2 linked regions of the Homo sapiens genome follow. The protein of the gene in region 1 purifies or fractionates together with the protein of each later gene. This does not show direct contact. Each region holds a gene or a part of one and is shown in the gene's direction. Other genes may lie near its edges.

The links. Proteins that work in one complex are often made in the same cells at the same time.
Region 2: the proteins of CC2D1A (region 1) and ASNS purify together in Homo sapiens (affinity purification with mass spectrometry, with the first as the bait; one large-scale study listed by BioGRID). This does not show direct contact.

The regions. Positions count from the first base shown.
Region 1 is NC_000019.10:13,912,652-13,916,304, forward strand, and holds part of CC2D1A (coiled-coil and C2 domain-containing protein 1A), read left to right. Parts: intron 1-516; coding exon 517-651; intron 652-752; coding exon 753-987; intron 988-3,653. UniProt on the Homo sapiens protein: Transcription factor that binds specifically to the DRE (dual repressor element) and represses HTR1A gene transcription in neuronal cells. The combination of calcium and ATP specifically inactivates the binding with FRE.
Region 2 is NC_000007.14:97,865,822-97,869,474, reverse strand, and holds part of ASNS (asparagine synthetase [glutamine-hydrolyzing]), read left to right. Parts: intron 1-295; 5' UTR 296-318; coding exon 319-567; intron 568-3,653.

The DNA.
Region 1 (3,653 bases):
AAGACCTAGCCTTTTTTATGAGATGGAGTCTTGCTGTGTCACCCAGGCTGGAGTGCAGTGGTGCCATCTCAGCTCACTACAACCTCTGCCTCCCAGGTTCAAGGGATCCTCCCACCTCAGCCTCCCCAGTAGCTGGGATTACAGGTGTGTGCCACCACGCCTGGCTAATTTTTGTATTTTTTGGTAGAGATGGTGTTTCTCTGTGTTGGCCAGGCTGGTCCTGACCTCAAGTGATCCACCTGCCTTGGCCTCCCAAAGTGTTGGGATTACAGGCGTGAGCCACCGCGCCTGGCCCACCCTTATCCTTCACAGCCATGTGACCCATATCAGGTGGGTGACATGATGCTTCTGAAACCCCATTCCCTCCACTGGGAAATGGGGACCATGATTTCTGCCTCACTGGGGCAGGGGAGGCTGGTCCAGGGATGACATGGGGCCGACTGTTACTGCAGAAGGGGCTAACAGGGGCATCCCAAGTGGGGTCACCACCCACACTGTGCCCCTGCCCTCCCACAGCCGAAGCCTGAGGCCCCTCATCCGGGGCTGGAGACCACCTTGCAGGAGAGGCTGGCGCTCTATCAGACAGCAATTGAAAGCGCCAGACAAGCTGGAGACAGCGCCAAGATGCGGCGCTACGATCGGGGGCTTAAAGTAAGTGGGCAGAGGGCAGGGTACAGGGACCCCCCGCCAACCCCGATGCCCTGCACCAAGCTCTTGGCTTCTCCCAAACCAATACTCACGCCTTATCTTAGACACTGGAAAACCTGCTCGCCTCCATCCGTAAGGGCAATGCCATTGACGAAGCGGACATCCCGCCGCCAGTGGCCATAGGAAAAGGCCCGGCGTCCACGCCTACCTACAGCCCTGCACCCACCCAGCCGGCCCCTAGAATCGCGTCAGCCCCAGAGCCCAGGGTCACCCTGGAGGGACCTTCTGCCACCGCCCCAGCCTCATCTCCAGGCTTGGCTAAGCCCCAGATGCCCCCAGGTAGGTGATGGGCAGGGCCGGGCTGATATGGGATCCGAGTGGGCCATCTGGCAGGATGCTGCTCTAGGGGGGTGCCGGCTGTGCACTGATTGTGAGATATTTTCAACACCCTGAGTCCTGGGGTCTTCAAGCCCCTGGAGTTCATGAATACCTCCCAAGCAGGACATGGATACCCAGAGAGTTTTTTTTGTTGTTATTATGATATTATGATAAAATATAGATCACATTTGCCATTAAAAATTATTTTAGTTCTTTTTTTTGAGATGGAGTTTCGTTCTTGTTGCCCAGGCTGGAGCGCAGTGGCACGATCTCAGCTCATTACAACCTCCACCTCCCAAGTTCAAGCGATTCTCCTGCCTCAGCCTCCCAAGTAGCTGGGATTACAGGCATATGCCACACTTGGCTAATTTTGTATTTTGAGTAGAGATGGGGTTTCACCTTGTTGGCCAGGCTGGTCTTGAATTCCTGACCTCAGGTGATCCACCCACTTCGGCCTCCCAATTTGCTGGGATTACAGGCATGAGCCACTGTGCCCGGCTTTTTTTAATTCTTTGAGACAGGGTCTTACTCCATCACCCAGGCTGGAGTGCAGTGATGTGATCATAGCTCAGTGTAGCCTCAACCTCCTGGGCTCAAGGGATCTTCCCTCACCTTCACCAGTAGCTGGGACTACAGGCATGCACCACACACTTGGCTAATTTTTTTTTTTTTTTTGAGTCGGAGTCTCGCTCTGTCACCCAGGCTGGAGTGCAGTGGTGCGATCTCGGCTCACTGCAACCTTTGCCTCCTGGGTTCAAGCAATTCTCCTGCCTCAGCCTCCTGAGTAGCTGGCATTACAGGTGCATGCCACCACACCTGGCTAATTTTTTGTATTTTTAGTAGAGACGGGGTTTCACTGTGTTAGCCAGGATGGTCTCGATCTCCTGACCTTGTGATCTGCCTGCCTCGGCCTCCCAAAGTGTTAGGATTACAAGCATGAGCCACCACGCCAGGCCTCATCGCCTTTTTTTTTTTTTTGAAACAGAGTCTCACTCTATTGCCCAGGCTGGAGTGCAGTAGCATGATCCTAGTTCACTGCAACCTGCCTCCCAGGCTCAAGCAATCCTCCCGCCTCAGCCTCCTGAGTAGCTGGGATTACAGGCATATGCCACCGTGCCCCATGCCCAGCTAATTTTTGTACTTTTTGTAGAGGTGCCATGTTGCCCAAGCTAGAACATATCTTCTAAGAGGTTTTTCTTCCTAACCTCCCCCTAGGAAAGGAAGGCCTCCCTCCCTCTCTTTGTGATATGAACACGGGGCTTTGCCCCAGGTCCAAACACTTCCCTGGCAGGAAGCAAAGAGACAACTCAAAATACTGGCATGGGTTTGAGAAAGCAAACACTGGGTCACTAAATCCTTCTGCAACCAAGCTAGTTTCCAAGCCATTGTTTTTGACAAAGTTCAAGGATTACTGGAATTGTCACCTGAAATTGTCAACTGAAACGACCAAAAATTTTTCACAATGGAAGTTTGGCATAAAACTTGTCAGGAGTTCAAAGAATACAAAGACATCACAGTAACAAAATTCTGTGTCTTCCAATCTATTTGTTAATGTGAAGTAGGTTTCTCAATACTTTAATTTTTTTGAGACGGAGTCTCGCTCTTGTTTCCAGGCTGGAGTGCGATGGCGTGATCTCGGCTCACTGCAACCTCCGCCTCCCAGGTTCAAGTGATTCACCTGCCTCAGCTTCTCGAGTAGCTGGGATTACAAGCGCCCACCACCAAGCCCGGCTAATTTTTGTATTTTTAGTAGAGACGGGGTTTCACCATGTTGCTGCCCAGGCTGGTCTCGAACTCCTGACCTCAGGTGATCCGCCTGCTCCGCCTCCCAAAGTGCGGGGATTACAGGCGTGAGCCACCACCCCTGGCCTCAACACTTTAAAAAAGAAAAAAAGTGCAGATGTAGTGGCTCATGCCTGTAATCCCAGCACTCTGGGAGGCCAGGAGTTCAAGAGCAGTCTAGGCAACATAGCAAGAACCCATCTCTACATAAAAATTAAGAAATTAGCCGGGTGTGGTAGTGCATGCCTTTAGTCCCAGCTCCTCGAGAAGCTGAGGTGGGAGGTTCGCTTGAGTCCAGGAGTTCAAGGCTGCAGTGAGCCGTGATCGTGCCACTCCAAGTCTGGGCAACAGAGCAAGATCTTATCTCTAAAAAAAGAAAAAACAGAAGAGGATTGAATGGGAGAAACGAGTTGATTGTTAGGGATTGGACCCAGCTCCAATTATGTCAGCAAGAGGTACATTTCTGGTAGAATTTTGCTCTTGGTGTACCAAAACTATCAAATAGCTCAGCAGGGGCTGGGCGTGGTGGTTCACACCTGTAATCCCAGCACTTTGGGACACCAAAGCGGGCGGATCACTTGAGGCCAGGAGTTCAAGACCAGCCCTGGCCAACATGGTGAGACCTCATCTCTACTAAAAATACAAAAATTAGCTGGGCGTGGTGGTGCATGCTGGTAGTCCCAGCCACTCGGGTGGATGAGGCAAGAGAATCACTTGAACCCAGAAGGCAGGGGTTGCAGTGAGCCACGATCACACCACTGCACTCCAGTCTGGGCGACAGAGCAAGACTCTGTCTCAACAAACAAACCAACCCAAAAAGCTCAGCTGGGTGTGGTGGCTCACAC
Region 2 (3,653 bases), on another chromosome or scaffold:
TGTCAGCTCTAGCCAACCACTAAATCCTAAGGTGGGAGAGATGCAGGCTTTGGCTAGGTGCTAAGCTGCTGTAGCCGGTTGAATGTAGAGGTCACTATCTTTTCCGAATACCTGTAAGTAAATTAAATCATTCTCTACTCCCATGTGCCTGCCAACCTAATGGGAAATCGCTATAGAAAAGATGGTTTAAATTTTAGTCTTTGAAGTGGTTTATGCACGTTTCCGGAATCAAGATTTAATGCAGAGTTGGATTGGATATTGAATATTTTTGATTTGTCTGCTTTTCTCTCCATAGAAAGCTTATAGCTTCATTGCACCATGTGTGGCATTTGGGCGCTGTTTGGCAGTGATGATTGCCTTTCTGTTCAGTGTCTGAGTGCTATGAAGATTGCACACAGAGGTCCAGATGCATTCCGTTTTGAGAATGTCAATGGATACACCAACTGCTGCTTTGGATTTCACCGGTTGGCGGTAGTTGACCCGCTGTTTGGAATGCAGCCAATTCGAGTGAAGAAATATCCGTATTTGTGGCTCTGTTACAATGGTGAAATCTACAACCATAAGAAGGTGAGGAGAAAGAAACCAGATGTCTGGATGCGATTAAACTTCAGAGTTTGTTGGTTACGATGATGTTACATATTCTGTATCATGCTTTTTCCTTTGCAAAGCACTCTATGTTCGTTATCTCATTTGCTCTAAGTATGTAAATAGGGAACTGATGAATAAAAAGGTGAGTGAAATGACTTGGTCACAAAAAAAGTGATAAAAATGGGGATTACAGTTCAGTTTCATTGACTCTTAGAATTTTTTCTCCTTCTCCCCAGCTTTTCATTTTGAAAAAATTCCTAACATACAGTAAAGAACAGAACAACAAGCACCTAGATTAAATAGTCATTAATGTTTTGCCATAGTTGCTTGATTTTTCTTTCTACACACACACACACACACACACACATGTTTTTGCTGAATCATTTGAGAGTACAGTGCAGATATTATGACACTCCTAAATATATAAGCATTTATCTCCTAAGAATAAGGACATTCTTCTACATAACATCAATGCCATTATTAAACCTAAGAGTCCATAATACCACCTAATATCCAGTTAATACTTAAATGAAATTTCCCTAAGTGTCCCAAGAATATTTTTATTTATTTATTTATTTTGAGACAGAGTCTCATTCTGTCACCCAGGCTGGAGTGCAGTGGTGCGATCTCGGCTTACTGCAACCTCTGCCTCCCAGGTTCAAGCAATTCTCCTGCCTCAGCCTCCCAAGTAGCTGGGACTACAGGCACCTGCCACCATGCCCAGCTAATTTTTTGTATTTTAGTAAAGACAGGGTTTCACCATGTTGCCCAGGGTGGTCTGGAACTCCTGAGCTCAGGTAATCTGCCCACCTTGACCTCTCAAAGTGCTACCAAGAATATCTTTATAGCTGGTTCTTGTTTGTTTTGAGCCAGATTTCATTCAAGGTTCATGCATTTGGTTGGTATGTTTCTTGGTATTTTTTGAGACTTCTTGATAGATACCTGTCAGGCATTGATAGAGATTTACATCCTAATCACATTTTGGACATTTTTATCTGTGAACAATAGCTTTTGTCATTGTTTGTTGCCTGCTCATAGGAAGACTCTTAATAATAGTCTTCTCATTTAAAAAGTTTTAAAATAGTTATTCAGGAAATTCCTTTTACACATTTCTTTATTCCTTTATTAAGGGTCTACTATGCACCAGACATCATTTTTCTAGGTGATTGGAGATGAAATGGTGAAAAGGAAAGGCAAGAATGGAATTTCCTGCTAGTGGGAGGTAGAAGAAGAGAGTATTAAAAATTTTTTCTAAGTCAAATAATGTCATATACATGAGAACGCTAGGTGGTATTATGGCATTATCAGCTTGGCTTTCCCCTTAAATGAAATAGGAAGTGCCCTGTTTCACTTGAACAGTGTTATTTCTTTTATTAAAAAGTTACAAGAAGTTAAATATTTTGAAAATAATTAATTTCTATTCTAAATTAGCCAAATGTTATATTTGTAAAAGTAGAGAAGTTTGTTCCATTGCTTCTACCAAGCATCTAAGTTTATGTAGTTGGGGCAGCTAGCAGTCTGTCTAATGAGCAGAATGTATACTTTAGGCTTATATAAAGTATTCAGAAATCCCCCCCACACCTCCTTTTTGGTAAAAATAAAGTTTACCACTACAATAAAATACAGCCAGAGGTGTACTGGGAGTAGAAGGAGACTGAATGAAAGAAAGGAGGAATGGGGTAAAGGCTGGGGCAAAGAGCAGGCCCTCTCCCTGCAGGGGAGTATCAGGGCCTGCAGCCAAGTCAAATGACAGCATGACGTCAGGAGGCAAGATTTGAGGGCTTTTATTTAAGGTGCAGCATTGGAGTTTGGTTTTAGGAGAGTAGGAAGTAATACATCCGTTACCCAAAGGACCCTTCTCCTTTTTAAATAAGTTACCTGCAAAGTTTAGGCCAAAGAGGTGGGTAAGGTAGATTTGGGAAGCTGTTGCTTACTAATATCACCGAATGCTTTATGGTCACTAACCCTTCAGGCAGTTCAGCCCAGAAGAGTCAGCAGAAGACTGTTTACAGGCCCCCACCTGCTAGTTACAGATCATCCCTGATAGAGCAGAGAGGGGTGACCAGGTAGTGACTTTGTAGTCACTGGAGGCAAAGCCCATTTTTGGACAGTTCAGTGAGGACTTATAGACAAAAGATTCACAAATTATGGAGTGAGTTGGATGGAGTGTGAAGCATATTTATGGGTCATGCACATACATAATAGGTTTACTTTTTGAAATTTGAAAGCATGTTTTAAGCTTATCTAGGATTTCCACCTGATTTAAACCTCTTCTTTCTCTAATGTCAGCCAAAAACCCGAGTACAAAGAAGAAAGAGGAATACATCAAGGACTTTTCATCCTCATAGTTTGCCATTAATGGCTCATAGTTTGCCGTTGATGGTGGAGAGTGTCAGAATTGGGGAGTAGCCTAATCAAACCTTCTTACTCTGCATGCAGTGGCAGACAGTCCCTTTGCTGTTCTTTTGGGGAATGCAGACTAATAAAGCGCCACCGTCATTTTATCTATCAGTAAGGAGTAGCTTTAATGCTGCTGCAGTGGTGGAAGCACTGGGCATTGTCATCCACCCCTGGGGACCAGCAGCTTTGTTTTGGATCATGTATCTGTTATTGTGATGGAGCCATTTATTTTTCAGGGAATGATGCCAAATGATGTTTGTCCCTTTGCTTTACATTTTTATAGCTAGGACTTTGAAGCTGAACTGGAGGAACTTCTTAGCCAATACTATCTTCTCAAATCAAAAGTTTATAGTTGCAAAAGACACGTTTTTTAGTGTCATGGCAACCAGGCAACCTATTATCTTAACTTAAATTTAGAGGTTGAGCATCCCTAATCTGAAAATCTGAAATTTGAAATGCTCCAAAATCTGAAACTTTTTGAGCACTGACATGACATTACATGTGCATTTTGATGTCACAGTCAAAATGCAGGTGTAAAACACGCAGTTTATTTGGCGTTCCCTAGGGAAAAAAGACCCTCTCAGCCCGCTTCAGCTGCAGTATAACTTTTCTACACATGCCCGGATTTCCCCATGCAAGCACGCCCACAAAGGGTAATAGAATGG